Regions from separate parts of the Homo sapiens genome. Here region 1 is linked to region 2. Evidence: fine-mapped expression QTL. A gene starts in region 2. The other region holds a variant in brackets. All regions are shown on one strand. Distances are between the middles of the regions.

What was found. PIP is the estimated chance that this variant, and not a neighbour inherited with it, causes the effect.
Region 1: its variant is fine-mapped to the expression of LOXL4 in fibroblasts (GTEx, PIP above 0.99).

Annotation. Positions count from the first base shown.
Region 1 is chr10:98,342,766-98,357,645 of GRCh38, forward strand. No RefSeq gene overlaps it. Among named protein-coding and RNA genes, the nearest start is that of MIR1287, 45 kb to the right of the region's middle. RefSeq lists an enhancer at 11,149-11,653. The variant T/C (reference allele first, on the strand shown) is at 7,070.
Region 2 is chr10:98,261,741-98,276,620 of GRCh38, forward strand. It overlaps LOXL4 (lysyl oxidase like 4), which reads right to left and starts at 6,454. Exons shown (of 15, transcript NM_032211.7): 1 at 6,392-6,454; 2 at 1,003-1,311; 3 at 295-473. The coding sequence starts at 1,279. LOC124902489 (a long non-coding RNA gene) reads left to right here and starts at 6,702. Exons shown (of 2, transcript XR_007062260.1): 1 at 6,702-9,448; 2 at 12,540-14,880. RefSeq lists enhancers at 1-633, 5,400-5,901, 5,902-6,401.

The DNA of each region.
Region 1 (14,880 bases), 81 kb after region 2:
ATTGTGGTGGGAGAAGGGAGACCATAGAGGGTAAAAGGAGAACAATTCCAGTCCCTCACAGACAGGGATGAATATATGCTGCAGGCAGGAGTCAAGGTAAGAGGCTGAGAGCCCATGAGATGAGGAGCGGGTGACGGAGTAGAGAGAAAAGAGGGATGATATGATGGGTTCAAGGTCAAGGTGGTGGCCAAGGGCGGCCAAGCCAGTCATCCTGGGTTTGCATCCTCGTTCATGCTAGATGCCACTTTGGACAACTCTCTTAACTCCATAGAACCACATCAGCTCCATCTCTATAAGACCAGGGGGCTCATAGTCACTGTGGGGATTTAACAAGGGAACTAGTATTTGTGAAAACACTGTAAACTGGGAAATGTAAATGCAAATAGAAGGCAAATTTGCAACATTTGGAAACATCTCCTATCCTTAAATAATTTTTTGTAAGTCTTCCTCTGCTTTCTCATTCCTCTTGAAGGTTTATTCCCAGGAACCTGGGGTCTTCAAGCTTGATGGGACCTTGGGGTTCACTTGGTTCATCCCTGTCATGTCACAGACAAGGAAATAGGCTCAGAGGGCTAATGAAAGTCATCCAGGGCTAATTAAAGAGCACATCAGGCTGGGCGTGGTGGCTCACACCTATAATCCCAGCACTTTGGGAGGCTGAGGTGGGAGGATCACCCAAAGTCAGGAGTTCGAGACCAGCCTGGCCAACATGGTGAAACCCTGTCTCTACTTAAAATATAAAAAGTAGCCAGGCATGGTGGTGCATGCCTGTAATCCCAGCTACTTGGGAGGCTGAGGTAGGAGAATTGTTTGAACATGGGGAGGCAGAGGATACAGTAAGCTGAGATCATACCACTGTACTCCAGCCTGGGTGACAGAGCAAGACTCCATCTCAAAAAAAAAAAAAAAAAAAAAGAAAAGGAAAGAAAAGAACACATCAAAGGCCATCCCCACCAATCACAGCTTCGCTGGCTTGGATCCCTAGTTTACATTTTTACTTTGCTTTTGACTCCCTGGTTTTCATTTTACTTCCACCCCACATGTCATTTTAAGGACAACTCATGCTGCTCACTATAGACCAATATGGTCTAACTATTGAGTGCATGGTGGGAATGCTCATTCAGTTGGCCCCAGGCCCTAATAATAATAATAATTACCACAGCTCAGAGCCTTGAATCTGCTACTGGGACCAGGCTACTTGGAAAAGATGACCTTCTGCAGGGTCCAGATCCAGCTGGTGAAGGTGGGAGGGAAGAAGATGAAAAGCCTCTGCTCCCCTCTGTCATGCCGCTTCATCTTACCTTCCCTTGCAAAGTTAAAGTCTGCTTCGAGTCTATTTGGTTCCTTGTAGAGAGCCTGCTTCCCACTATGCCTCTGTCTTACCTGGTGTCTTTGGCAGAGCCCCGAACCATCTCAGTGTCAAATCCCGGGGCTCCCCTATTTGGCCCTGGTCTAGGTAACTGAACAGTCCCTGCAAACACGAGGGATTGATGTATGTCCAATGCAGGTATGTCATGAAAAGGTTCCACAGCAGAGTGACTAAGGAACCAATTAGGAGATGAATAAAACATGTCCTATGTAGGTTATTCAAGAAAAGACTAATAATGAGAAATCCGAAGAAAGACGGGTGCATTCATTTTGGGATCGTCCCTTCTTGAGCAAGTAGAAGGAAGGCCTGAGAGTCAGTCCTTCAAGGGCACAGCAGCCAGGGGAGGTGCTGAGTGATGGAGGCAGAAACATTTTTTGCCCCTCATTTAGCTGACTTCCAAACACTGCCTCCTCCTCCTCCTCTGTGGTTGGGAGATTTCACATTTTGCTTGTCCCAAAGCCCCAGGACCCGCTGACCCAGCATGGTTGTTTCCTTCAGCTGTTGCTATGACCTGACCCCAAATCCTGGCTATTGACTGAGTGGCCACTTGACTTCGCCAGATGTCTCACTCTGCACTTCCTGATGTGGAAATCTACCCCCTATCCAGAGTAGGGCCTCTGGATGCTGGCCAGCCTCTTCCTGGCTCCCTGCATCAACGTCCTCCCTACAAAGGCTGAGATGCAAGATCTGTTTTCCAAACCACCAAAGTCATCACATAAATGTGTGAATGCATACATTTGCCAAAAAACCGGCAGATAATACTACTAATGACTAAACCAGAGCTGGCTTGGGAAATGAGGGTAAGTCATCAGCAAACTCGTCAATGAGTGGCAGTGAGGCGCTGTAGAGAGCAGCTGGTGTCAGAGGCTATGAGTTCCTGCACCCTCACTGGCTGCATTGCTACTAAAATAAGTCTCAGTTTCCTCATTTGCAAAGTGGGCTTAATAATCAGAATAATGCTTATCCTGTTTACTTTACAAGGTTCTTGCTAGGATCAGAGCCCTATGAACTTTTTTTTTTTAGAAAGCTATACTTGCATACAAGACTATTCGTTTCATAATTAGCAAAGTGCCTTGCTGAAAATAAGTGCTCACTAGGCATTAGAACTGTAGTCTGATTGTGAAAGAAAACATTATTATTTCATGGCATTTCCTACCTGACTTTCTTCTTTGTTTGCCCGTCTTCCCTGCCTCCCCCATTAGACTGTAAACCCTCTGAAATCAGGAACTCTGTCCATCTTGCTCAGAGCTATGTTCCTTGTGCCTTGAGGGGTACTGGAACAAAGAAAATGTCATTAAGTGGTTTTTGAGGGGATGAATGGTGGCCTTATGGCTCAGAAGGAAGCAATGTAGGGAACAGTTAAAATGAGCTTAATTCTGGGGAATGCAAGCTTTTTCTTTTTCTTTTCTTTCTTTCTTCTTTCTTTAAGACAGAGTTTCACTCTTGTCACCCAGGCTGGAGTGCAGTGGTGCAATCTTGGCTCACTGCAATCTCTGCCTCCCGGATTCAAGTGATTCTCCTACCTCAGCCTCCATGCCCAGCTAATTTTTGTATTTTTAGTAGAGATGGGGTTTCACCTTGTTGGCCAGGATGGTCTCAATCTCTTGACCTCGTGATCCACCTGCCTCGGCCTCCCAAAGTGCTGGGATTACAGGCGTGAGCCACTGCGCCCAGCCTGCAAGCTTTTTTAATGAGAATTTGCTGCTGGTGTAAAATGAAATATATCTTAGAAAGTAACCAGGTCCTCTTGGAGATCAAAATATGGAAGGAAACACCAAGTGTGAAGATCAGATAAGAGATCTGTGGATATTGCCAGGTGCAGTGGCTCACACCTGTAATCCCAACACTTTGGGAGGCTGAGGCGGGTGGATCACGAGGTCAGGAGTTTGAGATCAGCCTGATCAACATGGTGAAACCCCATCTCTACTAAAAATACAAAAATTAGCTGTGCACCTGTAACCCAGCCACTCAGGAGGCTGAGGCAGGAAAACTGCTTGAACCCAGGAGGCAGAGGTTGTAGTGAGCCAAGATTGCACTAGTGCATTCCAGCCTGGGTGACAGAGTGAGACTCCACCTCAAAACAAACAAACAAAAAGAGATCTGTGAATATTGAGTAGGACAAGATTTGTTCTGTCTTCTAAAAAGCTGACTCCATTTTTATTGCCCCAGAAAGTAGAACCAGGACCTACAGAGAGATGGCGTTTGTTTTGGTTAAAGACACTTGAGAATAGAATGGGCTGGCTCAGGAGGTGGTGAGTTTCTAGACAGAGGAGAAATTCAAGAAGAGGCTGGATGAATTTGTGGCACTAATGTTGTAGGTAAACTGAGGAACTATGTTATTAAATGAGATATAATAGGGCCTCCATGGCCACAATTTATTCTAATCTGCAGGGTTCCAGAGGCAAAGTCCAAAATAAGTTAATGAATTAACTAATTAATTAATTAAAGGGAAAGGGGGAGGAAAGGGAAGAGGGAAGGGAAAAGAGGAATGATCTGGGATCTCTGCCATTTCCCTTCCTTGAGAATTCTTTTCATCCTCAACTCACACCCCTTGATAAGGAACATCAGACACCACCCTCACCCATCTCAGAACAACTCATGACTTGCATCCTCCTTCTCCAGCCAGACTATACCTCTCACTGGTACACATGGCCTCGGCTCCCATCGCCCCGTCTTCAGCCAGGCATTCTCTCTTGGTGTAAGGAAGACCACTGTTTACTCCATGCTGAACTGACCCTGGAGGTTCTTTGTTCAGGACCTCCACATACCATGTGGAACAGGAACTGGCAGCCCCCTTTTACAGGCCGAATGTTTGTGTCCCTCAACACCCCCAAATTCACATTGTTGGAAATAAGAGCTCAGAGTTGCAAAGAAAATGAGCACTCAAATAAAGGATATCTCAGCAAGGCAAACTTACTTCTGCAGAAGGGTGCTGCTCGTTCTTCTGGTCACTGCAAGAGCACACCGAACAAAGGAGGGAAGGGGTTTTTATCCCTAATGCAGTCAGTCCCTACTACTGTGTCCGGTCTCCATTGGCTGGGGTCGCACCATACCATCTAAGCTGATCCCGACTGGCTACTTCAAAATTGAGCAGGGGTGGGGGCTACAGTGGAGGGAAGAGCAGTTTCTGAACTAAGGGTGCCAAATAAGGAACAGATGTGGGTTGTTACAGATTGGGAACAGATGTGGGTTACAGACTGGGAACGGATATGGGTTACAGATTGGGAATGGGTGTGGGTTACAGATTGGGAATGGGTGTGGGTTACAGATTGGGAATGGACGTGGGTTACAGATTGGGAATGGCTGGAAGGTTGTTTACCATAACTGGGGGCAAGGAGGCAAGGAAGTTAGGCTTTGAAAATAGAGGACAAGCTGAACCTTTGAAGAGGAACTCACTGTTTCCAACAATATGTTGAAGCCCTAAACTCAGTGTGGCTGTACTTTGAGATAGGGCCCTTAAGGAAGTAATTAAGGTTAAAAAAGGTCACAAGGGTGCAGGCCTGACTTGATAGGATTAGTGTCCTTACAAGAAGAGACACCAGGATGCGCTTCTGTTGTCTCTCTCCTCTCTCTGCCACAGAGAAAAGGCCATGTGAGGGCATGGCAAGAATGCGGCTGTCCACAAGACAGGGAGAGAGCCCTCCCTAGAAACCAAATGGACCGACACCTAAATCTTGGACTTCAAGCTCCCAGAACTGTGAGAAAATTAATTTCTGCCATTTAAGCTGCTTGGTCTGTGGTATTTTGTTATAACAGCCTGAGCTGACTAAGACACTCCCTTGGTAAAAAAAATTTCAAGGAGGAAGCATGATTTGGATGCTCATTCTGCCACTTACAAGCTGAGGGGCCTTGGGCAAGTTATTTTTCTCTCTGAGCCTCATTGTGGTCATTGGTAAAATGTGGATCATAACACCTATTGCAAAAGGCTATTATGAGGATCAAGTGAAAAATCTGCATGTGGGTATCTGGGGCACAGTAAAACACTTAGAAAAAGTTAGATTTAAAGGAAGATACCTGCATCTTGAAACTAGAACATTTTGAGAGACAGGACTAGCTGGATTTCCTAGGCCGACTAAGAATCCCTAAGCCTAGCTGGGAAGGTGACCACTTCCACCTTTAAACATGGGGCTTGCAACTTAGCTCACACCTGACCAATCAGATAGTAAGGGGAGCTCACTAAAATGCTAATTAGGCAAAAACAGGAGGTAAAGAAATAGCCAATCATCTGTTGCCTGGGAGCACAGCAGGAGGGACAATGATCAGGATATAAACCCAGGTATTCGAGCCAGCAATGGCAACCCCCTTTGGGTCCCCTCCCTTTGTATGGGAGCTCTGTTTTCACTCTATTTCACTCTATTAAATCTTGCAACTGCACTCTTCTGTGTTTGTTATGGCTTGAGCTGAGCTTTCGCTCACAGTCCACCACTGCTGTTTGCCACAGTCACAGACCCGCTGCTCACTTCAATCCCTCCAGATCCCGCAGGGTGTCCGCTGTGCTCCTGATCCAGCGAGGCACCCATTGCCACTCCCGATCGTGCTAAAGGCTTGCCATTTTTCCTGCATGGCTAAGGGCCTGGGTTCATCCTAATCGAGCTGAACACTAGTCACTGGGTTCTACAGTTCTCTTCCATGACCCACAGCTTCCAATAGAGCTATAACACTCACCGCATGGCCCAAGATTCCATTCCTTGGAATCCGTGAGGCCAAGACCCCCAGGTCAGAGAACACGAGGCTTGCCACCATCTTGGAAGCGGCTCACCACCATCTTGGGAGCTCTGTGAGCAAGGAACCCCAGTAACAATTTCTCGGTGTGATCACCTGATAAAACAACAGCAGCCTGCCCCCTTCGAGGCTGCCTCCTCTGGACAGTGGCCTTGAAGTCCCCATTTGCTTATCAGTTACCTTTTGGGTTGGCATAAGAGTGTTCGTCTCTCAGCAATACCAGCCTCTCCCGTGTCTCCAGGATTCACATCCCAGAGCTTCTTGTGCTTTTCTCCACGGAATTTTGGGATCACAGCTAAAAGAATCAACCAGTCTGTTGGAACATTTAAGTTTTCCTGCCCTCCTGGTATCTGCAGACGTAGGTAACAATTCCATGTGCAAAACTTTCAAGTAATGATGAATCCGCTGGGGCCATAACTCACACCCTGAGGCCACCCCGGAAGGATGGCTGGAGGTACCCCACTGAGGAGTCATCCCGCCCACTAGTACCACGAGTCACGCCCTCTCATTAGATCAAATCAGAGGCAGGGAGAGATTTACAGCTTATCTCAAAACATCTGGACCGGCAATGTCGATTCCAGACCAACAGCAGGAGAGGGTACTTGGGGACCACATTACAAGCCTTGCTTCTGAAGAGCAGCTGCCCTGAATGTTCACCTCGAACACTTCTCAGCACGCTGCCTCCTCAGAGTGTGCACATCTGGATTTGAAACTAAAAGCAAGAACTATGCATTTTTCTTGCTGTTGAAATATGGCTCCCTGGGGACCCAGCAGGTCGGGCCAACACAGACACTTCCTGCATCCTGACCTCAGACAAGCCCACATTCTCTAGGATAACTGAAGGGAACGCTTCCAAGTCTGCAAGCTGCCGTCAACTAAGATCTCAGGCATCCTCACTTCGTGCCGAGAGGAGGCTCTTAAACATCACTGCCTGGGCTGAGCTTAGGGGAGGAGGAAGTAGAAAATGTGATTAACATG[T/C]AACCATAAAATGTTGCAGCCATAAAAAAAGAGAGAAGTTATGCGTAAGTTATGGCTGCGTGAATGGCCACATCAAGCCATTTCCAAAAGCCCATCTCACTAAACAGCAGTTATCTTGCTCCTCAAGTGGAAACCGCTTTGAGACATTTCAAAATTAGTGATTTTCTGCCAGCAGCTACACTGACTGCACCAGAGATCCTGACCACAGTCCTTGCTAGAGTCTCAAACAGACTTGCATTTGACTTTTTCTATTTTTTATTTTTTTTGAGACAGAGTCTCACTCTGTCACCCAGGCTGGAGTGCAGTGGTGTGATCTCAGTTCACTGAATCCTCTGTCTCCTGGGTTCAAGCGATTCTCCTGCCTCAGCCTCCTGAGTAGCTGGGACTACAGGCACCTGTCACCATGCCCAGGTAATTTTTGTATTTTTAGTAGAGGCCGGGTTTCACCATGTTGGCCAGGCTGGTCTCAAACTTCTGACCTCAAATGACCCACCCACCTCGCCCTCCCAAAGTGCTGGGATTACAAGTGTGAGCCACTGCACCAGGCCAAACAGACTTGCATTTGACTTTCAAAAAATATGTTGCAGCTGGGCACGGTGGCTCACGCCTGTAATCCTAGCACTTTGGGAGGCCGAGGTGGGAGGATCACAAGGTAAAGAGACTGAGACCATCCTGGTCAACATGGTGAAACCCCGTCTCTACTAAAAATACAAAAATTAGCCAGGTGTGGCAGGCGTCTGTAATCCCAGCTTATTTGGGAGGCTGAGGCAGGAGAATCGCTTGAACCTGGGAGGCGGGAAGGGAGCCCCTTCCAGAGCACACCTGCTGAGTGCTTTGGTTCCCTTCCAACTCTCATGCTATATGGCTCTTACGCTCACCCATCTGCTGTTTCAGCCCCTGACTCACAACTCTGATTAATCCTGCCCTTTTTTGCTATCCTGGAGAAAACGTGCTTCTTGCTTGATCTTGTTCCTTACAAATTCATTCTCTTGTTTAGGGTCGATGCTCCTTAATGATGCTGTTGTTCCATTGTCTGCCACAAACCACTTTCCACTCTAAAGGTTTGTCAACATGAACCCGTTTGTTGATGAAATCAGACAAGACAGATGTGAGGATGATATTCTTCTCAAGGTGTCCAGTCCAGCTTGATACCCGACAGATCTAGACTAAAAGCATCCTCCTGACCCACGTGCAGAGACAGTACATGATGCTTGGCTGTGTAATGGAGACACCAAGACACCAGCTTGAGTCCTCTGCTCTTATTACCCATGAGAATGTGGGTGAGAAACATGACCACCTTGAGCCTCAGTCTTCTGATGTGTGAAATGAAGATAATTGGAGACCCTATTTTCTAGGGTGTTTTAGGAAGAAACAAAATCATGCTTAGCATGGTAGCTGGAATACCTTTAGGGTCCAATAAAAGGAATAGCTATACTCCTGGTAGTGATGAGATAGTTCTGTATCTTGAGTGCAGTGATGATTACACAAATGTACACATGTGAGGAAATGGCATAGAGCTACACACACACTGACCTGGTGTCAAATTCCTGGTTCAGATTTTGTGTGATAGTTATTCCCGTAACCACTGGGCAACTTCCTATCATTATTTCAAGATTAAAAAGAAAAGAAAAGAAAAAAAAAAAGACCAGGAAGGTAAAAAAGGAGATGGGGTGGGAATAGCTGTGGTGGGATTAGTACTGTTTGGAGACTTCATTTCCTTCCCTGCTCTGCTGTGTGACTGCCGAGCGCTGGCTGCAGACCCTGCTGCACTTTCACGGCTGCCCTGGTCTCCAGGTTCATTACTATCTCTCAGACTCACAGCATCAGCCTTCACCCTGGCTCTGCTGGAGACTGCCTCAGAGCTACAGTCCCCTGGTAACTCACTGGTGTATCACTGCCCCAGGCAGCTCCACCACCCCTGCCCCACCCCAGCAAGACCCCAGGCAGCTCCACCACCCCTGCCCCACCCCAGCAAGACCCCAGGCAGCTCCACCACCCCTGCCCCACCCCAGCAAGACCCCAGGCAGCTCCACCACCCCTGCCCCACCCCCAGTAAGACACATGCAGGCTATGCAGGGGGAATCTCGTGCTGAAGGGCGACCTCGCTACGTGAGCAGGGCTCTCCACAGTCCCACATGCCTGGCCCTGGAGGGAAGCCGAGGATAATGGGTTTTGCTGGTGGCCATAGGGTGTGGACTGTGGGGATGTGCCAAGCTTGTGAGCATGAGCTCAGGCGAAAGTCCTGTCTTGAAAGATGTGATGGCTCGAGCTACGGAATTCTGTTCCAGCAAGGATGAGAAAACATTCTGTGTCTGTCCAAACCAAGAAGGAAAGCAACAAGTATGGAGGGTTTTAAACTTTGACAAGTTCCAGAGGCTCAGTGATAAGAACCAGGGAGAGATTCCAGGGGGTAGAGGCAATCAAGGGAAATGTCTGAGCCCAGGAAGAAGAGGGGAGGTGAATGGCAGGACCCGGTTACCAAGGATGTTCGTGTCTGAGTTAGACCATGGAAGAGACCTCCGTGTGAACCTGATAGGTAGTATTTTAAAATGTTCATAAAGGAAAAGTAGATCCTATCTGTGGCAGATTGTAAAATGCAGGTGCTGTTGCAGTCTGCGGAGAAGACGCCTCAGGATTTTGATCAGGTTGGAGTATTGGGGGAGCGTCACTTACACCAGCTGCCAGAGGACCTCTGATCCGAGATGGGAACTTTGGTTGCAGATGAGCATATGGAGAGGCTCTAACTCCTTTCTTTCCTCGTTTGTCTTCCATAAAGAAGAGAAGACCTGAAGCCCAGGATCCTAGGAATAAGAAGAGCAGATACCATCTTTCCTTCGCAGGAATAACAAACAGGCAGCCCAAATCCTACCCTTCCAATTTTGGTGAGCATGTGGAGAAACAGACACACTTCCAGACATGATGGTGGGGGTGTGCATGGACAATGCTTTTGGGGAATTCAGTTTGGAAGATCCACACATGTCTACAACTGGGTCTTTGTGGAAGAGTGTGTCTTGCATATCTCAGGCTTTTGCTGGTAAAGATCAATGAAATGAAAGGAGTGGGCGCTTCTGAACTGCAGGCACCTGCTGCATGCTCCTTCCAATGCCTCTCACCAGTGGGAAACCTCAGGAGTCTGTCTCTGAATTTGTTTCCCTTGCTGTGAAATAGGGATGGCAAGAATAAAATCTCTTTCTGGGGTGGCTGGGAGGTTCACTTGGAACAGTGAACAGGCCTTGAACATTGAACCACACCTCTGGAATGCTACTGAATGTTGCTGTTGTGATATGTGAAGAGGCAGAAGTTTTGGTGTCTGGGAGCATTTTCCTGGGAGAGGGAAGGGGTAAGGAGGCGAGGGAGGTGGGTCATCTACAATCATCCCTTTACCCAGCTGGCTGGAATTGCTGTATAGGAATTAAAATCAACAAAGGAAGTCATTGTGAAAATACGCATAGACGTGAGCTCTGGACAGAACAGGTTCAGGAAACGGAGGAGATCCCCAGGAAGTCTTCCAAGCACAAAGAGGAGGAAATGGAAAGTATGAAAGTACGGATGCAGGAACCTGTGATTAAAGCAGAAATGAAAGAATGAATAAGGGAACTATAGTTCTGCAAACAAGAAAGGGAGGAGGAGGGAATAAGACCAGCTCTCTTTGCAAGTCCTTCCTTCATCAAGCCATAGGAAGGAGGGAGCGGATGGCACAGGAGCTCTGAAGAACAAAACACGGCAAGTCACAACCAAATCACTATTGAGATAATGAGGGTTAATAAGAGCAATTTCCAGATCTGTCAGCAAACGTGGGTGTGACTAAGACTGGTACACAATTTGGGGGTCCCTGTAAGATGCTACTGCTGGAAGGGGAAATGGGGATTTTAAAGCAGAAACATTGCCCAGGGACACAGAAGCCCTGGAAGGGGACTACTGCTTCCAGAATGGTTAAGTTCATTGAAGAATTTTCCACTAGCAATTGACTCATCATTCATAGAGGGAGAGACCTGGAGACAGAGCAAAGGCTGGCCACGCTGGCAGTGGTAGGTATGACCCTACACTCACCTGCTGGGGTCAGCTTCCCTGTCTGCATCCCTTACAGCTGGGAAATCCAGTTCCCCTGTCCATACCATCTTATATCTGCAAGGACTTTAATTGGACACCAGGGCTGGTGTTTGAACGGCATTACTGTTAGTGGAGGGAGCTGACGGAATGACTCAAGGCACAAGTATATCATCTGAAGAAGACTAGAGCCTCATTGCCTTAAAAGAATCAGCAACAAGTGAAAAGTGACAGTGGCTGACCACGTGTCCTTGGACAAGGTACTTATCTGCTCTGAGTGTACTTGCTGAGTCTGTTTCAACTATACAATGGAAATGACACGACCTCCTGCAGAGGATGATAAAGACCACCTTAGAGAGCAGGTGAAGTGGCCAGAGTTACACCCTAGTACTGCCCTCAAGAAACATTTTCCTTTCCCTTGCAGTGAGGGAAGCCAAGGTGCCTGGATGAGCAGATAGAATCTTTGTTTGCGGTTGTCCAGGCTGTCCCTACCATCATCATTTAGATGTCGATGCAAGCTCAAAGAAAGCATGTCTGAGCTTTATCCCTTTATTCCTCTCTCATCTTGTCAAGCCCAAGGATGCCTTTTAAAAAATAGGAAAGGCCACACCATTTAAAAGAAAGGCCAAGTGCCAGGCAAGAGCCCTGGTGAGTGCTGGGGTGCAGGGAGAGCTTTGCAGACCCTGGGACTCACCTTCAGGCCTTGCACCGACTCTGTCTGTTCCTGACAAGCCCTATGCACTCTCCTCTGGCTCCTGGTGGCTTCTTTCCTGGTTCCAGCCACTCCATTTGTCCTGGACTTCACCTTGGCCCATCTGTTCTGGTTGGGCTTCCCTTTCTGAATTCTTTTCCCTGTTTTTGCAGCCCAGAAGCCTGAGCTGCCTCCTGGATGTCCAAAGTCTTTCATCTTGCCTCGGGCTAGCAGACCGCACTAATTGACACTGAGGGGTGAATGAGACTTAATTAGGGAATGTTTCCAGCCCAGAAGTACAGAAGGGGTGAGGAAAGGAGAGGTCATGGGTGGAGTGCGGTGAGGGGATATGGGCAGCACCTGTCTTCAGTGTGATTTGCCCAAGAGCATCGCCTAACCCCACCCCAAACATTCTCCAGTGCTGTCAAGAGAGAGAATAAAAAACACCAAATGCAGGAGTCAAATGTCCCCCCACCTTTGGCAGCTTCTGCCTTTTAGGTGAGGTCAAGGATAGAGTCCCCACATGTGAGGCTGTGTCAGTCACCAACCAGAGATTCCACTTCCACCTCCACAACTTCCAGGGCACAGACTCCTCATCTGACAAATATGACCAAAGACCTAGCTATGGTGAGCTCAGCATTTTGTTCTCCTGCTCTGACATATCAGTAATATTGGTATTTGAGCTGTGAGATCCCATTAGCTCTCCTCAGACCCTGAGGCTTTAAATTTCCCATTGAATTCATTTTAACCCACATTAATTGGGTGTGTACAAAGCTCTGGGCTCAGCACAGTAAAGAAAATGGTGAATTGGCCCCACAGGGAGATCATGATGTAACAGAAGCAAACTGCGATCTCTGGCTTTCACTATAGGGTGGGATACATGGGGGCTAGAGGGCAAGAGGGCTGGAAGAATTTATTCCTGGGTTGGGGTCAGGGCAGTGGGTGTGTGGCTGGCTGGAAGGAAAGTGAGATTTGGCATGGGCCTTAGGAAAGCATCTTCAGACCGAGGGAACCTCATGAGTAGAGGCATGGAGGAGCAGGTGTGACAGAGCCTATGATAGGGAGTTGGGGAGAGCCTGGATAGGTCAGCCCAGGCCACAGAGGGAATTGGTTAACACATGAACCTAAAGGCCAGAAGTCTAAGAGACATCAGGGTCTGTAACTGCTCAAATTATATGCAATTATCTGAGTGCAAATGTATTTTTTAAGAGGAGAGTCTACATACTCCTTCAGGGTCACAATGAGATCCAGAGCCATCAATGCTGATATAGGCCATGGGGGACCTATTGGAATATTGTTTTTCATTTAAAAAGTTATTTATTATAAAGATTTTCAAACATACCAAAAGTAGAGGTAATAATATAATGAACTCAATGTCCCACCTTCAACAATGATCAATTTGTGGCTGGTCTTGTTTCACTTGCACCTTCACCTCTTCCCACAACCTCAGGCTTGATTTGATGCTAATCTTAAAGAAAATATTCAATATGTTTCTGGATTAAAATATAAGGATTTTTTTTAAAAAACACACAACCACAATACCATTAAGTCATCTAAAATGTTTAACAATATTTCCTTAATATCATCAAATATTCAGTCAGGTGTTCACATCTCCCTAAATGTCTATTGACTTTTTTTTTAAACAGTTTGTTAATTTGATTTAGGGTCCATATAGAGTTCATACCTTGCTTTCTTTAAGTCTCCTTCAACCCGTAGAGTCCCTTTCCATCTATTTTTTCTGTCATTTGTCCTGTAGAGTTTCCTGCAGTCTGGATTTTGTGAGCTGCATCTCATGATGTCATTTAACATGTGCTTCTATCTGTGTGCTTCCTATAAACTGGAAGTTTGAGCTACAGATGTCATTATATTCAGGTTTGATTTTTTTTTCAATACAACTTCAAGAGGTTCATAATGCCTGGTTGTCCCTCTTGTTTCCATCACAGTGACTTTTTTTTTTTTTTTTTTTGAAATGGAGTCTCACTCTGTCACCCAGGCTGGAGTGCAGTGGCGCGATCTCGGCTCACTGCAACCTCAGCCTCCTGGGTTCAAGTGATTCTCCTGCCTTAGCCTCCCGAGTAGCTGGGACTACAAGCACCTGCCACCACGCCCAGCTAATTTTTTGTATTTTTAGTACAGATGGGGTTTCACCATTTTAGCCAGGATGGTCTCAATCTCCTGACATTGTGATCTGCCCACTTTGGCCTCCCAAAATGCTGGGATTACAGGTGTGAGCCACCACAGTGATTTTAAGCTTGGGAGATGTATTAGTCCATTCTTACGCAGCTATGAAGAAGTACCCAAGACTGGGTAATTTATAAAGAAAAGAGGTTTAATTGACTCACAGTTCCACATGGCTGGGGAGGCCTCAGGCAACTTACAATCATGGGGGAAAGCACCTCTTCACTGGGCAGCAGGAGAGAGATAGGTGCAAGCAGGGAAAATGCCAGATGCTTATAAAACCATCAGATCTTGTGAGGCTCACTTACTATAATGAGAACAGCATGGGGGAAACCGCCCCCATGATTCAATTATCTCCCCTGGTCCTGCCCTTGACATGTGAGGATTATTACAATTCAAGGTGAGATTTGGGTGGGGACACAGAGCCAAATCATATCAGGAGAGAAGTGTAGGCATTTCAGAAAGGTCAGTCAATGGTGTGGGGGTCTGAGCAGAGGCAGGGACCAGAGGCAGGAAGACCAGCTGGGAAGCTGCTGCAGTGGTCTAAGCGAGCTGCCACCTTCCAGCCGCACGAATGAGCCTGTATAAATGAGGGGTGCCTGTGTGCTTGCATGTGTAGAAGGCCCCCTGGAGCTGCAGGCAGCACTCTGGCACTAGATGCTTGTTTCTGTGACCTGGGGAACTTGACAGCCACATGAGGACCATCAAGTGGCTAAATACAGCAAAATAAATGAGGCACTTTTACTAATGTATTTGCTTTTTCTCTATCTGCCTGAAGCTTTGCTAGGTGAATTAGGTTTCCAATGTGTTGCCCCTCCCTAGAACCATGAAATCCCCAGGGGATGGGAAGTGAATGGAAATGACTGGAGCACAAGGCGAACCCCTGGCCTGTGTG
Region 2 (14,880 bases):
GGCCAGGCCTCATGGATGAGGGAGCCCCTTACCCAATGCTGTCTCCCTTACGGGAGCAGCTTCTGCGATTCCCAGTGGGGTCAGCTCTGGTCCTCTGGCCTGCCTTGCCTCAGGCTGGGGCCCTCTATTTATGCACCTGCTGCAGGGCACACTCAGGAGTCGGCGGCCTGGGGACGATGCTCAGTGCAGACTGCACCCTTTCCCCTCGCTTATCCTCTAGGCCCGTCTTCTGGGAGGCTCTCTGTTCTCTGACCCAGCCCTTGGCTCAGACCAGAGCCTGAACAGCCTCCTCACCTGGGGCCCAAGGGCATTGGAGACAGTTTCAGAAAGGTAGCCACGATGGCGCCGGGGGTGGCATATCACCCCTACGTCTTCTGAGTGACTGCAGTCACTGACTCCCCAGCCATTAGACCCGCACTGGTCCAAGGAGCTCTCTGTGCCCACACAGCGCACATTGTCCAGCCAGATGGGTCCTGTGGAGTGGAGGTGATGCTCAAAGATGGCACAGAGAGGCAGGTCACAGGCTCTGCCTCCTGCATAGGACCCCACACTTACCAAGTCACCTCTTCCAAACCCTGGGAGAAAGTGGCAGGGAGGAGGAAGTTTGGGTCTCCTGGGGAATAAGTATTTATAACCCTGCCTGCTACCTCCTTTGGGTGCTGGCTCTTAGAGAATCTGTTTTTGGAAAATGCCGGGTAGCTCTAGGAATCAGACCTACCTGTTTGCCCATTTTTTCATTCAACATTCTCTAAGCACCCACTGTGTGCCAATTGCTATGTTCAAGGAACTTAGAGTTTAGTGGTGGTGACGGCGGTGGCCTTATTACAAGAGAGAATGGGAGGGTGGGAGTAGGGGCCATGTGCAGCTGAGGCACTCAGGAAATGCCGTGTGGAGGAGGTCACATGAGCAGGGTATTAAAGGATGGGTGGGTGTCAGTGAGCCCAGCCCAAGAAGACTGTTACCATCTCCTTGCCATCCCACTAGGTGGCACCAGTCACTCACCCTCCCCTTGGCCGTACTTGGCACTGTGGGCCCAGGTCAAGGCAGCTTCGAAGCCCAGCTGGCGGCAAGCCACTGTGGCCTCCTGGATAGCAAAGTTGTCATCACACACGGTGCCCCACTGGCCCTGGTGCAGCACCTCCAGGCGGCCCTCCTCTGGCTTGCTCTCTGGGCCCACCAGCCGGAGCTTAGTGGTGCCCAGTGACTGTGGCCTGCTGGGAGGGGGCTGGCCTAGCAGCAGCAGGAACAGAAAGAGGGTGGCTGGTGGGGACCACGCCATGGTGACTTCAAGGACAGCTGAGGCCAAGATACCTGAGGAATGAGTAAACATGACAGTGATCACCACCTCTACCCAGATCTCAGACCTCTGCAGCAATTTGGCAGCTCCTGGCAAGACAAAGGAAAGAAAACCCCCCTCAAATGTGTGTGTGTGTGCACGCGCACACACACACACAGTGGCATTAATTGAGTCTGGGCCAGGTTAGCTGATTTGGTTCAAATCCACCACATTCGCCATGACCTTGAGGAAGTTTAAACTTAACCTCACTGAGTCTCAGTCTCCTCATCTGTAAAATGGGGATAGTAATCTCCATCTCACGGTGTTGTTGAGTGTTAAATAAAACACCGTATGGAAAGTGCTTAGCAAAGTCCTAGCATTGGTGAGTACACAATAAACAGCAGCTCTTATACACCTAAAATCTTATGTGTAGGCAGACGAGGTGGTCCACCATTTGAGTCACGGGGATGCCCCCAGGGTGCCCTCAGGTCAAGACTATCTACCCCAGGGACACTGCCACCACCTTCTGATGTTCCTAGCACCCTAATCAAATGTGTGAAGTGCCGCCTTCACCTAGAAGGCACATGGAAGGCTGGAGCAGAAAGGGCTATTAGATGGGCATCAAGGACTCCACCACTCATTGGCTGCATGGCTTGGGCAAGTCTCTTCAACTCTCTAGGTCCTGACTCTTTCTTTCTTTTTTCTTTCTTTCTTTCTTTTTTTTTTTTTTTTCGAGACAGAGTCTCTCTCTGTCGCCCAGGCTGGACTGCAGTGCTGCAATCTCAGCTCACTGCAACCTCCGCCTCCCAGGTTTAAGCAATTCTCTGCCTCATCCTCCTGAGTAGCTGGGATTACAGGCGCCCACCACCACGCCCAGCTAATTTTTTTGTATCTGTAGTAGAGACGGGGTTTCACCATCTTGGCCACACTGGTCTTGAACTCCTGACCTCGTGATCCATCCGCCTTGGCCTCCCAAAGTGCTGGGATTACAGGTGTGAGCCACTGTGCCCGGCCCTGACTCTTTATTTCTAAAGTGAGGAGATGGAACCACATATCATCTGGATCCCTCCTGCAGCTTGGATACCCTGTGATAGCCTCACATCCATCTAGGCGTATGATTCATGTAGATTCAATACACATTTTTGGAATACTTGCTTCAGGCCAGGTGCTGGGACACAGAAATTAAGACATCGAACACCCTCCCTACCTTCATGAAGCTCAAGCAAGAAGAATTAGGGAAGCCTTTCAAAGAAGGGACACTTAACCTGAGCCTTATTGGGCAAATAAGATTCTCCTGGGTGAGAAAAGGGGCATTCGAGATACAGAGAAGAGGATTAGGAAAGAGGGAAAGAGGTGAGTTTGTGCAAGAGCAGGAAGTGCCCTTCTCTTACCCCCAGACCACAGTGTGGGGGTTTGGAGGGGAAAGAGATGGAGGGACGAGCTGGGGCCAATGATCAAGGGCCATGTGTACTACACAGAGGGTTTGCCTTCATCCTGTAGGAAGCGAGGGGCCAGGGGAGGGTTTCAGGCGGTAAACAGAGAGGGCCCCTGTCTCCAGGAGGCTGTAATCAGACGTTCTTTGGGTCCTTAGAGAGGGGATGAGGCTGGGGGCAGGTCCTCTCCCCCTCACACAGCAGCCTTGGTCCCGGGACCAGCAGGTGGAGAAGGGCATAGAGGAGAGAGTCTCAGCTGGTTAGAGCTGTCAGAGACCTCTGGAGCCACCGAAGCTGAAGCTCCTCCACCCCAAGGCTCTGCTGCCGATGGAAGCTAAGGCCGACCTGGAACAGGGGATGGAGAAGATGGGCTAAGAAAGCTCGTTCTGATGAGACCTGCCTCTTCCACGGCCATGGCTCCTCTTGGGGAATCATGCAGCTCATCCGCTTGAGTGGGGAGGCTCTCACAGGCCCCTGCCACTCTCACTTCCATGGATGGCATCTGCCCTACTCCCTCTCAACGGCCTTGGCCAGCAGGGCTGGGTGGAGTGGGCTCCTAAAAGTGCACTAAACAAGTTCTGGGAATGAAGCTCCATGGGAGTGGGGATGTGTTGTGTCCCCAGTTCCCAAAATAGTGTCAGGTGTGTAGGTGGCACTCATTCATATCTGTGGTTGCATGGATGGGAGGTGGCAGCACAGTGCTTGAGAGCACAGGCTGGGCGGTCAGACTGCTGGGGTTCGAATCCTGCCTCCACCAGTTCATTTGGAAGTGATCTTGGGCCAGCGATTTAGTTTCTCCCTGCCTCAGTGTCTCCCTCTGTAAAGTGGGGATAATAATAGTAACTACCTCATAGGATTTTTGTAAAGATTAAGTGAAGAAACATTAAATCCTTAGAAGAGCAAGCCTTCAGTAACAATGAACTATTATTATTATTATTATTATTATTATTATTATTATTATTATTATTTTTGAGACAGATTTTTGCTCTTGTCACCCAGGCTGGAGTGCAATGGCACAAACTCGACTCACTGCAACCTCCGCCTCCAGGGTTCAAGTGATTATCTTGCCTTAGCCTCCCAAGTAGCTGGGATTACAGGCATGCGCCAACATGCCCAGCTAATTTATCTGTATTTTTAGTAGAGACAGGGTTTCACCACATCAGTTCTTGAACTCCTGACCTCAGGTGATCCACCCGCCTTGGCCTCCCAAAGTGACGGGATTACCAGCGTGAGCCACTACATCGGCCAACAATGAACTATTATTAACAGCTACTGTGACAGCGACGATAGAACCGTTGGTCTAGATTGGTCCCACCTCCTCTCTGTACAAAGAAGGAAATGGAGGCCACGTCCGATCTCAACTGCAAGTCCTTGGTACTCCTCTTTGCAGCCTTCTCTAGATTTGCCCCTTTTCCCTCCACCCACACTGCAGAGCCTAGATGCTCCCCTCTCCACTCCCTGAGGCTGTGCAGGGGCTGCCTTCCCATTCTCACCTCTGCAGCTCTCCCCCTCTGACCCCTCCCACGCTTCCTTTCCAGACTGAAACACTGTCTTCTGCATGTCACTCAGAGGCTTGTGGGGGCTCCCAGCTGGCTGTCCCATGAGCAGAGTGCTCTCCATTGTTTCCCATTCCCTCCTCCGTGCTCCCTGGAGTAGGAGGTAGACAGCCAGGGACTGAGCCAAACCACTCCCCAGATGGCAAGAAAGGATGGGACAGATCGGCCTCAGGTCCCTCAGCTATTAGGACCCAGTGGTCACATGGGTCTGGGCTGAGTGACAACCACACCTTCTCTACCACCCCCAGGAGTTGGAATGCTTCTATCTCTGCCGCCAAATTGTGTCTGGAGTCAAATATTTTCCTTTCTCTGAGTCTCAGCTGAAAAACCTGTAAAATGAGGGGGTGGCACTAGACAGCCCCCCTATCCGACATGCTCTGATGGGGCCCAGGGTAGGCTGGGCAGGTCTGCTGTTTGGCTCCTGGCTGAAGTCCCTGACACACTGAGGAGGTCTTGTTACAGGCTGTGGACAGTCCCAGGCCAGCAGCTCCTTCCTCTCCAAGGGACCAACCTGAGGGCATGGGAGGGCTTCTGCTGTAGGACCCTGGGGTCTGGGCCAGGGAAGCTCCCTTCCATGAACGCTGCTGGAAGGTGGGGGGACGGCAGCGGGAACCAAGAGTTAGATGCAGGGAGAGTCCCTCTTATTGGCCTTCCTGCCCACTATAGGCCCCCGAGAGCTTTTGCTCACACCAGACTATAGCCTTCGTCTCCCAGCCTCCAAGCCTTTGCTCTCACTGTTCCTTTCCCTCTATCTAAGACTGTTAAACTCCTACACATCCCACAAGGCCAGCTCAAATGCCACCCCCTCCATTAAGCCCTCCCACAAAGCCTTCCACAAAGCACATTGTGTGTTTGCTTCCTGACCCCACAACCAGACTCCACCTGTCTGTTCCCCTAGCACTGAGCACAGAGGACCAAGCTGTGCATCCTCCCTCAGAGAAGGAAGCGGCCTCGAAAGTGGCCGTTACTTTCCCAAATAAAGGAGAAGGGGACAGAAGAGGGAAGGAAGGTGGAAGGGAAAGAGGAGGGGAGGGAAGTGAGGATAATAACTATACATTTTAAAATACGGATTAAATACTTATCTCCATTTTACAGATGAGAAGGTAAGGTCCAGGGAAGTCAAGTAACTTGCCCAGCCAGGATTCAAACCCAAGCAGCCTGGCTAGACGCCGGACTCTCAAAACCACCAAGAATGGATGTTGGAAGAGGGGGAGGAGGAAAGGAAGGCCGGGAGCCGACTGAAATTCCACCCTGTTCTGGTGGATTTATGACCCAGGCCGTGGTGTGAGGGCACTGGGCAGGGTGCTCTTCGCTGAATGCCGAGTGACAGATCCAAGATCTTGCCAGCTTGAGGCACAGAGGCACCTGCTCCAGGTGTGCCAGGAGATGCTGGGACCTGGCCTGACCTAGCGCAGGTAGGGAGGGCTGAAGACAGCAAATGCCCGAGTATTCAAGAGAGAGCATGGGGGGTGCTGTCCTGAGGGTGCAGCAACTTTAGGATGGCTCATCCCTTCTCTGCCGTTGGGCAGCTCTTCTCAGCAGCCTCCTCTCAGCCCTGTAGCCTCCCCGGGGTTACTGACTCTGTGGACCTGAAGCAGTGCCAACAAATGGTCTCTGAGCTGTACCTGTCCAGGCTAGGAAAGAGGGGGCTTGAAGTCTTCTGCCCCCTTCCCTTCGGTGTTTCTGTCACACGCCGACCCCCCAACATAATCAGCTCCGGTCTGGATAGTTGGAGAGCCCAGATCAGCCCTGGTTCGTTGTCCCCCAAGTCGTAAGTGTGACATCTGAACCCGCCTTGCCCCTTCCCTGTCTCCTCCCTGGAAGAAGGCAGAGCAATGGTTACACACGGCGTGTACACAAACAAGACACGCAGGCACCCCTGAGGCCTGGGCGCACCACTCAGGGCGGGCCTTGGGCCAAGCTCCCCAGCGTGGTCACTTGTCCAGTTGGAAGCAGGTTGGTGAGCGACTGGAGGGCCGGGCTGAGGGTCCAAGGGATCCCCCATGCACCCTAGGCCCAGTCTCCAGGAACCCTCAGAGGCCTGCAGACTCACAGAGAGACAGAAGGACAGATGGGACAGCAAGAGGCAGACCAAGAGGCAGACGCGCGGCCAGGCGGGGGCTCACCAGATGGAGCGCGGACAGTCCGGGGCTGGGCGGGCGCCGCGGCGGAGCAGCGCTAACGGGCTCCCTCCCCGGGCGCCCTGGGGCCTTTTTATCCGCCTCCCGCCCGCGGCCCCCCAGCCCCGAGCTGGCCGCGGAGGAGGCCCCGCAGGCCCCGCCCCGGGCGGGCCTGGAGTCCGCGGGCGCCCCGCCCGGCCTTCCGCGCGGCGCCCCCCGTCGGGACACAGGCCAGGTGGCGGGGGCGCCCAGCCGCAGCCGGCGGGGCCGGGAAGTCCCGGGGGGCGGGGGGAGCGGGGGGGCGGCGGGGGGTCGCGGGGAGCGGAGCTCTCGGGAAAGGGCGGCGCTGGGCCCGCGGCTGTTTTGCAGGGAGGGCCGCGGCGGCCTCGGGAGTCCCTCTCCCAGGCAGTTTCCTCTTTTGCAGAACAAGGTAATGACGCCCACCTAGAGTCCCAGTCTGTGAGTCCTGGTGGGTGCCAGGGCCCCCGGCACAGCACCCTTCGCACGGGAGCGCCCGGCTGTCACAGGGGCCGAATCTCACGAGCTCGGTCACTTAGGACAATGTAGACGCCCTTTCTGGGAGGCCGGGGCTCAGTTCAGAGAGGTCGAGGTGGCGCGGTGCAGCGGTGCTCTCCTGCAGGAACAGGCGAGTCACCCAGAGTTTACTGAATACCGCCCCCCCCCCCCCCCCCGCCCTCCGTGTGAAACTCTGCGCTGCCCATTGTGCAGCTGGGAACACTGAGCCCCAGGCGACATAACTTGCTCCTCCAGGCAATACACAGTGAATGGGAGAACCCCTTCACAGAGCTGAATGATGCAGTCCTGGCCCTTGTCAGACTCACGGGAGGAGGGTGTTAGTGCAGGGAGCAGGGACTGTAGAATTAAAGAAATGTGGACATGGCTGACAGAGAGGAGTCCCATCAGCTGAACTGAGCACCTAGGTGCCTGAACCCCAGTCCAAGCCCCCAGTTTCTTTCCCCTAGACCTGGTCCTGCCCTTAGCCTCACTGGCCCCATCTGTAAAATGGGCAGAGGGTTCCAGCCTCCCGGTTTCCTCCCTAGGCCCACAGCTGCCCAACCTGGTTCCCCCTCTTGCCCCCACCTTGCCTAAACGTCCTTCCAAAGGTTCATTCATCCCACAAGCCTTTATTGATTTTCTCCTACATGCTAGACAGGGTGCTGGAGTGCTAGACGCTGGAGGGGGCCTTCCCAGTCTGGTGGGGGAGGCAGATGTGCAAGTAAGAATAAGCCTGGACAGGCAGAGTGTGATAGAGCTAGGATGTCAAGATGGACCTTTTCGATCCTGGGTGACAGCCAGGTCTTAATGACCCTGCTGCCAGGGACCTGCCATCCACTCCTGGCTGCCCGTGTCCAAGATGTCCCCCCAGTGCCCCTGCCCCACCCCAGCTGGGCCCAAAACATTCCCCATGATGAATCAGCAGGAAAGAATGCTCCCAGCCTCGGGTCAGTGGCAGCAGCCCAGCTCCTCCCCCAGGGACAATGAGGCAGCTGTGGGCTTGGGTGCCAGGTATGCCTAAGCCCTCTCCTAGGGCCCAGCCACCTCTCATGCTGAGCCAGAAGCAACACAGAGGGTTCGGAAACGTGGGCTCTGCCTGCTGCCAATCACTCACCAGGCCTGGCTGCCCAGAACTAAAAATACCCTGGAGCGCAGGGGCGGGCGGAGGATAGAGACCAGGGAATGAATGGATGTTGCCCGGAAGTCCTTTAATTTGCACAACTCTGGGCAGAGGCCAAGGCTGGGAAGCAGTGGAAGTGGGGATCTCTAAGGCATGCGCTGTGAGCCCCCAACCCTGAGAAGTGAGGGGCTCTGGTCCCAGCCCCAGCCCATGGCGTACTAACAGTGGGATTTTCTCGGCTGAGTTGTCATCTCCTCATCCTTAAATGTGATTGCTGTAGGGGTCAGATGGGACCACTGGATTCATCTCAATCAGCTTTCATTTGATTGAGAAAGCCCTCTTCTTCCCTCCTGCCTGGCTATGTTCACCCGGCCTCAGCCCAGCGCCTGTGACCCTCTCCATACTCTTTATATAATGGTCTGTGTCTGCCTTAACTCTGGACACCCCCACCCACCCCCGAGCTTCTTATTTATCTCTAAACCCAGATCCTGTCACAGAGCTTGACACATAGCAAGTGCTCCAGAAGTGCTCACGGATTGAATAAATGGACCTAGCGGTGCGTGCCAGTTTCTGGTCCCCAAGGTGATACAGACAAGCCAGAGGTGCTTCCTATCTTGTCCTCAAGGAATTTGCAGAGTGGTGGGGGAGACAGAGCCACAATCAACCAGCAGGACAAGGCATCATCACCATTATCATCATCATGGCTGGCTGGGGTCGAAAAACCGGTGGACAATGCTTTCATCATCTCCTGTTTACACAATGAAACTGGGACACAAAGGGGTTAAGTGACTTGGCCAACATCACACAGCTGTTATCTGCAGATGGGAGCAAGTGATCAATGACGGCGAAAGCACAGGGCTGTGTGGATGCTGGGCAGGGAAGTCTGAGGGTTGAAGCCTTCCCAGAAGTGCCTTGGAAGGTGGATCTGATACACTGGGTAGAGAGGGGGGAAAGTGGAGTGGTCAGGAATAACACTTTACGATGTTGTGGAAGCCGTGAAGCACCATGCAGGTGTCTGGAGTTACCGCAGCTCCCCTGATCCCTCAGCCAGTACCCAGGGACTTGGATGTGTAAGCATCACCTCTCCCTGCCTCCTCCCAGGGAAAGGAGCTAACATGAATCTCTTCCCCATGGGGTGCTTCTCAACCCTCCCTTCCTGCCTAAGTCAGGGTCTGTACTTTCCTCCCAAGTGGGAAGGCCAGAATCTCCTGCAGAAAGCGGTGGCCTCCAGGGTGCACCTGGTTGAACCCAGTAGTGACCCTGGTGGAGTGCCCAGTGCCCATGCCTGCTGGCAAACTTCCTCCTCAGCAGCCTTCAGGACTCAGTTCTAGCCTCATCTCCTCTGTGACTCAGTATGGAGGAAACTGTACAGCTTTAAAACTGGGCAACCTGAGTTCTAGCTCTGCTTCTGAATTGTGTGGCCTCGGGTAAGTTATTTTGCTGTGCCTAAGGTACTGCCTCCTGCATCTATTTGTCCTGCCGTTGCATTCCTGCCTCCTCTAACACTCAGTGCTGTGGCAACAGCCCCCAAACTGCTCTCAGTTTTTCCCTGCATCTCACTGTTCCTGACGTCAGTCTTTCTAAAGTGTTGTCTTGCTCTAGCTCAAGAATCTTTAATTGCTCACTACTGCCCACAGGAGAGAAGGAATCTCCAGTTGCCTCTACTCACTTCATTTTCCATATTCTACCTACCCTTCAGGCCTAACTCCGATTCCAACTCCTCCGTGATATCTCCCATGAAAACTTGCATGAATGCTCTCAAAGTAGAAGGTGCTGGAAGAGTCACAGAGCCAAACCAGACACAGTGTTTGCCCTCAAGGAGCTCACTGTCTAGTGAGAGAGATGACTCAAAGACATAGCTTGATGGAACGTAGATTGTAATAACAGAAAGTAGGACAAATGGGGAGAACAAGCCATTTTGGCCAAGGACAGGCTCCTCCTTTGTTGAGAGCTGTTTATCCAGAAACAGGGCTTTTGTTCAGGGAGAGGATGGGAGCTGAGAGGGTTTTGTAAGATCATGAAGTTGGGGAAGTGGGGAGGGTGGATCTAGGAAGCCTGGAGGGGCTAGTCAAGGATACGGTTTCTAGGGAGAAAGGAGAGATGAGCTGGTTGCAGTAAGGAGAGGAAATTTGGCGGAAGAGCAGAGCTGGTTAAAAAGAAATTCTAGGAAGTTTGGGTTTGTGATAGGCAAAGTCACCCTCTCCCCTGTTCTGTGAAAGCTTCAGAAACCCCGCATAAGTCAATCAAGTTTGGAGCTGGACAGGCCCACCCCAGCATTTGCAGGGCCCAGGGCAAGACTCAAGGGAGGCCTTATGCCATGAGTCAAGTATTTTAAAGCCATCAACCAAATGAATCCATTGTTAAGTCAATCATGGTCTAGCCTCCCACCTTGACAAATATACCTTTGGAAAGACCTGGAAGGTCAGGTTTGCATTCACAACTTTCCACTCCTCGGAGTTCTGTATGGAACACGCTATGACAAGAGTGTCTGCCTCTGGCCTTGCACCCTGGTGTGTCCGTCCGCACCATATTCTGCCCATCCCACACAGCAAGGGGCCTTCTGCTGTGACAGACATGCAACACCGTCGGCTCTGTGCAGACCTCCCACAGACAGCTGTCCTGTGGCTGCCCCATGCCTGGGTGCACACTCTGGCACAGGCACAGGCTGCACTCAAGAGGAAGGTCTAGAAGTGGGCTCTGGCCTCCTGGGCAAAGAATTCCAAGAGCATGGGTTTGAAAATCGAGTGGAAGTTCCTCCTTGCCCTGTGACGGGGGGTGGGGCGTGGAGGGAGTGTAATTGACAAGGGCCACGGTGATGCCCTCTGTAGCAGGAGGACCAGAGCAGGGACCCTTGCCCAGGTCTAAGGGCAGCATGGAAGTGGGATTGTGTGTATGTGTGTATGGGGCGGGGAGAGGATGTGACGTGAAGGTGGGAATGTGGCTCAGAGGTGGGCCCTGGGGGAGAGTGAGGGGGCTACTCAGTCACTGAGCCTCCTTAGGGTCACACACAATGCTCCATGGCTGAAAGAGAGGAGAGGATGCCCCCAGTGCGGCGAGTGGGCGAGGCGGGAGAGGAAGGCAGAGGCATTTGGTCTGGGCTCAGGTCGAAGATGCTGGCAGGGAGAGGGTTGAAGGGGGAGCAGCCCAGCCAGGTTACCTTTAGAGAGCTGCGAGCCACCTGAGCAAGGGCCTTAGCTTGGCAGGTAGGAGGGGCCGCTGCAGCTTTCCGAAAGGGTTGGGGTAGGAGTGGGATTTGGTTAGAGTTGGGCTACAGGAATCTTAATCTTGCCAGGTACTGTCCTGAGCTGGTTTAACGCTTCACAGTCATAACTTTTTGTAGGAGGTGGGGGGGACAGGAACTGATAAGGGTGTTGGGGTGAGGGGACAGGAAGGAGTTTAATAAGCTCTAAGCTACTGAAAGGCAGAGAATAGGACTCAGATTCCCCACTTCCACCTCCAGGAATGCCAGCACAAATGCCCTGAATTCCCAGAGAAGTTTGGACTTTGTAAGATCAATCGCTCAACACACATTTCTTCCCCAGAGTCTCTTCCTGCCCCTCAGGAAGACACATGATGTCACCCCATTTCTCATATGTAACTCCTCCTTGCCTGGGGAAGCTCAGTGTCCTGGCTTTCCTCTCCCCCTCCTCCTCCTCCTCTTCCTCTCTCCTCTCAGGACCTCTTCCTGCCCTGCTGCCTTCCCCACCTTCTCCCCTCTCCGTCCTGGCCACACACCCTTTCTAAACTCACCTCCAACCACTCTCCAGTTCTCTTAAGAATATATCTCCCCCTGCCAATTTCCCTCTTCCCCCTGCACCCCCAGTGCCACCTGCAGAACCCCGCTTTCCCTGTCTCAGCAGCTGGACACAGGCGCAGCGCCTGGATGTGCTTCTATTCAGGTAAATTAAAGTCATAAGTTCTGGGGGGAAATGAGGCGGAATGAAGACTCAGTGCCACAGCCACACAGCCCCGGAGGTCCCTTCGGGAGCTCATGCAAGTCTGCACCAACCTTCTCACTTGCCAGTAATTGAACCCCTTTTTCCTTAAGCAACACCAGACAAGTTAAATTAAAAGACATTTCTTATTCTATGCTGTTTTCCTGGGTCCTTTAAAGCCACTGGTGTAGTAACTGTGTTGCATCTCCCATGGTGGATGAGGTCAACAGGCCTTAGTGGGCTAGCCTGGGAACTTCCCAGGCTACAATGTTCTCTTCGCAGGAGAACAATGTTCTTCCTAGCCCAGGGTTTTGCTTCTTCTTGGCCCCTTTGGGAAGATCACTGACTATTTGAGGGCATAGCCAAACTGAATGCTTAAGTGTTAGGAGCCACTCCCAACCCTAAATCCACTATTTGTGAATTATGTCTGGAATTAATTGATATTCCATGGGAAATAATTTCAGGAACAGAGGTATTGATTAAAGAGAGGTACACGTGAACTTAACACAGATATCTTCAGTCTTGTATCATCTTAGTTTTTCTTTTCTTTTTCTTTTTCTTTTTTTTTTTTTTTTTTTTTTAGATGAAGTCTTGCTCTGTCACCCAGGCTGGAGTGCGGTGGTGTGATCTTGGCTTACTGCAAACTTCCCCTCCCAGGTTCAAGCGATTCTCCTGCTGCAGCCTCCTTGGGTAGCTGGGATTACAGGTCTATGCCACTGTGTCCGGCTAATTTTTGTATTATTAGTAGAGATGGGTTTTCACCATGTTGGCCAGGCTGGTCTTGAACTCCTGATATCAAGTGATCTGCCCTCCTCGACCTCCCAAAGTGCTGGGATTACAGGTGTGAGCCACTATGCCTGACCCGGTCTTGTATTATCTTGCATTTTGGTTTGTTGATGTAGAGCTTTGTAAACATTTCAAAGACTCTTTGTTAGGAATTGGTTTTATCTACCAGCCAGAATGTATGATCATTCAAGACTGGGACTGACAGATTCCAAAGGTTAATTTTCATGTAACCAGCTCATCTTTAGCTTCCAGGAACCGCGAAGGGATAGACAAGAGCTGTCCTGGTGGGGAATTCCCTTGACCTGACTTGGAGGGGCAGAGAGGCAGGGGACCTGACACAGAGGTCAAGGGAGATCCCTGGATCAAGCAGGACCTAAGCCAAGACCAGAGCCAGAGAGCCAGGAGCGAGATGTAGAGCCATTGGCATCAAAGTGTTATCAAAGTCCAAGCAAGAAGTCAGGACTGAGGGTGGAAAGGAGAAGGACAAGCCCTGTCAGAAGCCAGGGCTCAGTCTGATGAACCTGTTCAGATGCCACCAGACAGAGCAGGAGGGCAGCAGAGCAACCCCCACTTCTAGTCCAGCGGCTCTTTGAGTGTGGTTCTGGATCAGCACCATCAGCATGGCCCAGGACTGTGTTTGAAACGCCAATTCTTAGGCCCCACTGCAGAGCCACTGAATCAGAAACCTGGTGGCGATGGGGCCCAGCATCTGTGTTCTAACACATCCTCCAGATAATTCTAATGCCTGCTATCATCTGAGAACCTCTTTTCTAGACCACACCTTTGGACAATGTTTGGTCTGACAGAGTCTGGAGCCCTGCAGGTGCAATTATCCTTGGAGTCCCAGACCTGTCTGGCAGGCAGGGGCCCTCTTGCATTCTGAGGAACCTCTTCCACAGATGTCAGGCTGAGTTTTGGGGAAGCACAGTTTTTGGGAAGCACGGCCTTCTACATCTCAGTTATTTCCAAATGGGTTCCAACCTCTTCATGTGGAGTGGGAGAGCCATGTTCTGCTTAGAGTTCTATAAGGACCTCCATTTCCCCAAGGAGCCCATCATTGTGGTGGTGGGAATTCCTCTTGTTGTCTTCAGGGGGCCCTACCTTTGCTGGGTCAGGAAGGGGAGGTCAGGCCAACATCTAGATTCTGACAGAATCTTCCTGCATGACGGGAATTTCAACATCTATTCAACAACACAAAAGTCAGTGCCACTGTGAACATCAGACTGAAGTCTGAGATCTTCCCGGAGACCAGCTGGCCAAAAGATGTCATTGATGCCTAGCTCTGGGCAGGCAGAAGAGACCCGGAGCCTGTTACAAACGCCTTCTCCTTCTTCTTGGAGTTGGTTCTGGCTTTCATAATTCACAGTGGATCCAGAGTTGCAGAGATAATTCTTAGTCTTGGGCCATTCTGGATATATCATTCTTCCTCATAGACCATTCTGGATACGTCTTTGTGGCCAAAAAAGAGTTAAATAGCTGCAAGGTTGTTGATTTGTTTACAAAAAAGAAGAAGAAGAAGAAGAAGAAGAAGAAGAAGAAGAAGAAGAAGAACAAGAAGAAGAAGAAGAAGAAGAAGAAGAAAGGAGAAGAAAAAGAGGAAGAGGAAGAAGAGGAAGAGGAGGAAAAGGAAGAAGAAGAAGAAGAAGAAGAAGAAGAAGAAGAAGAAGAAGAAGAAGAAGAAGAAGAAGAAGAAAACTGCTCAGAAAGGACAAGAAAAGCTTCATTTCCTAGCCATTAACTGAAAACCACCTTTCTTAGGACAGGTTGACCTCTAAAGTGTTGACTGATCCATCCAGAAAAAAATGTAGATAAATGATGTCTCTTTTTAGCATTTCATACCAATAAACAAGGTGGGAAAGAAGGAATTTCACCAAGATATCAGCAGAAACATAACTTTGGAGGAGAAATAATTTCCTCTTCATTACCAGTTAATGAAAACAAGCTTCTGCCCACCAGCACTCTGAATTGCTGTCACTGTGGTGAGGTGGTGTGACAGGAACTTGGGGTAACGCCTTAGGCCTCTGGCAAGGATTCTTACATCAGAGCTAATAGGTGAATGTGTCTCATTCAAGGTGGGTGCTGCTCTGTGCTAAGTCTTGGGCATGGAGCCATTGTATCTGTACAGAAAACACTTGACT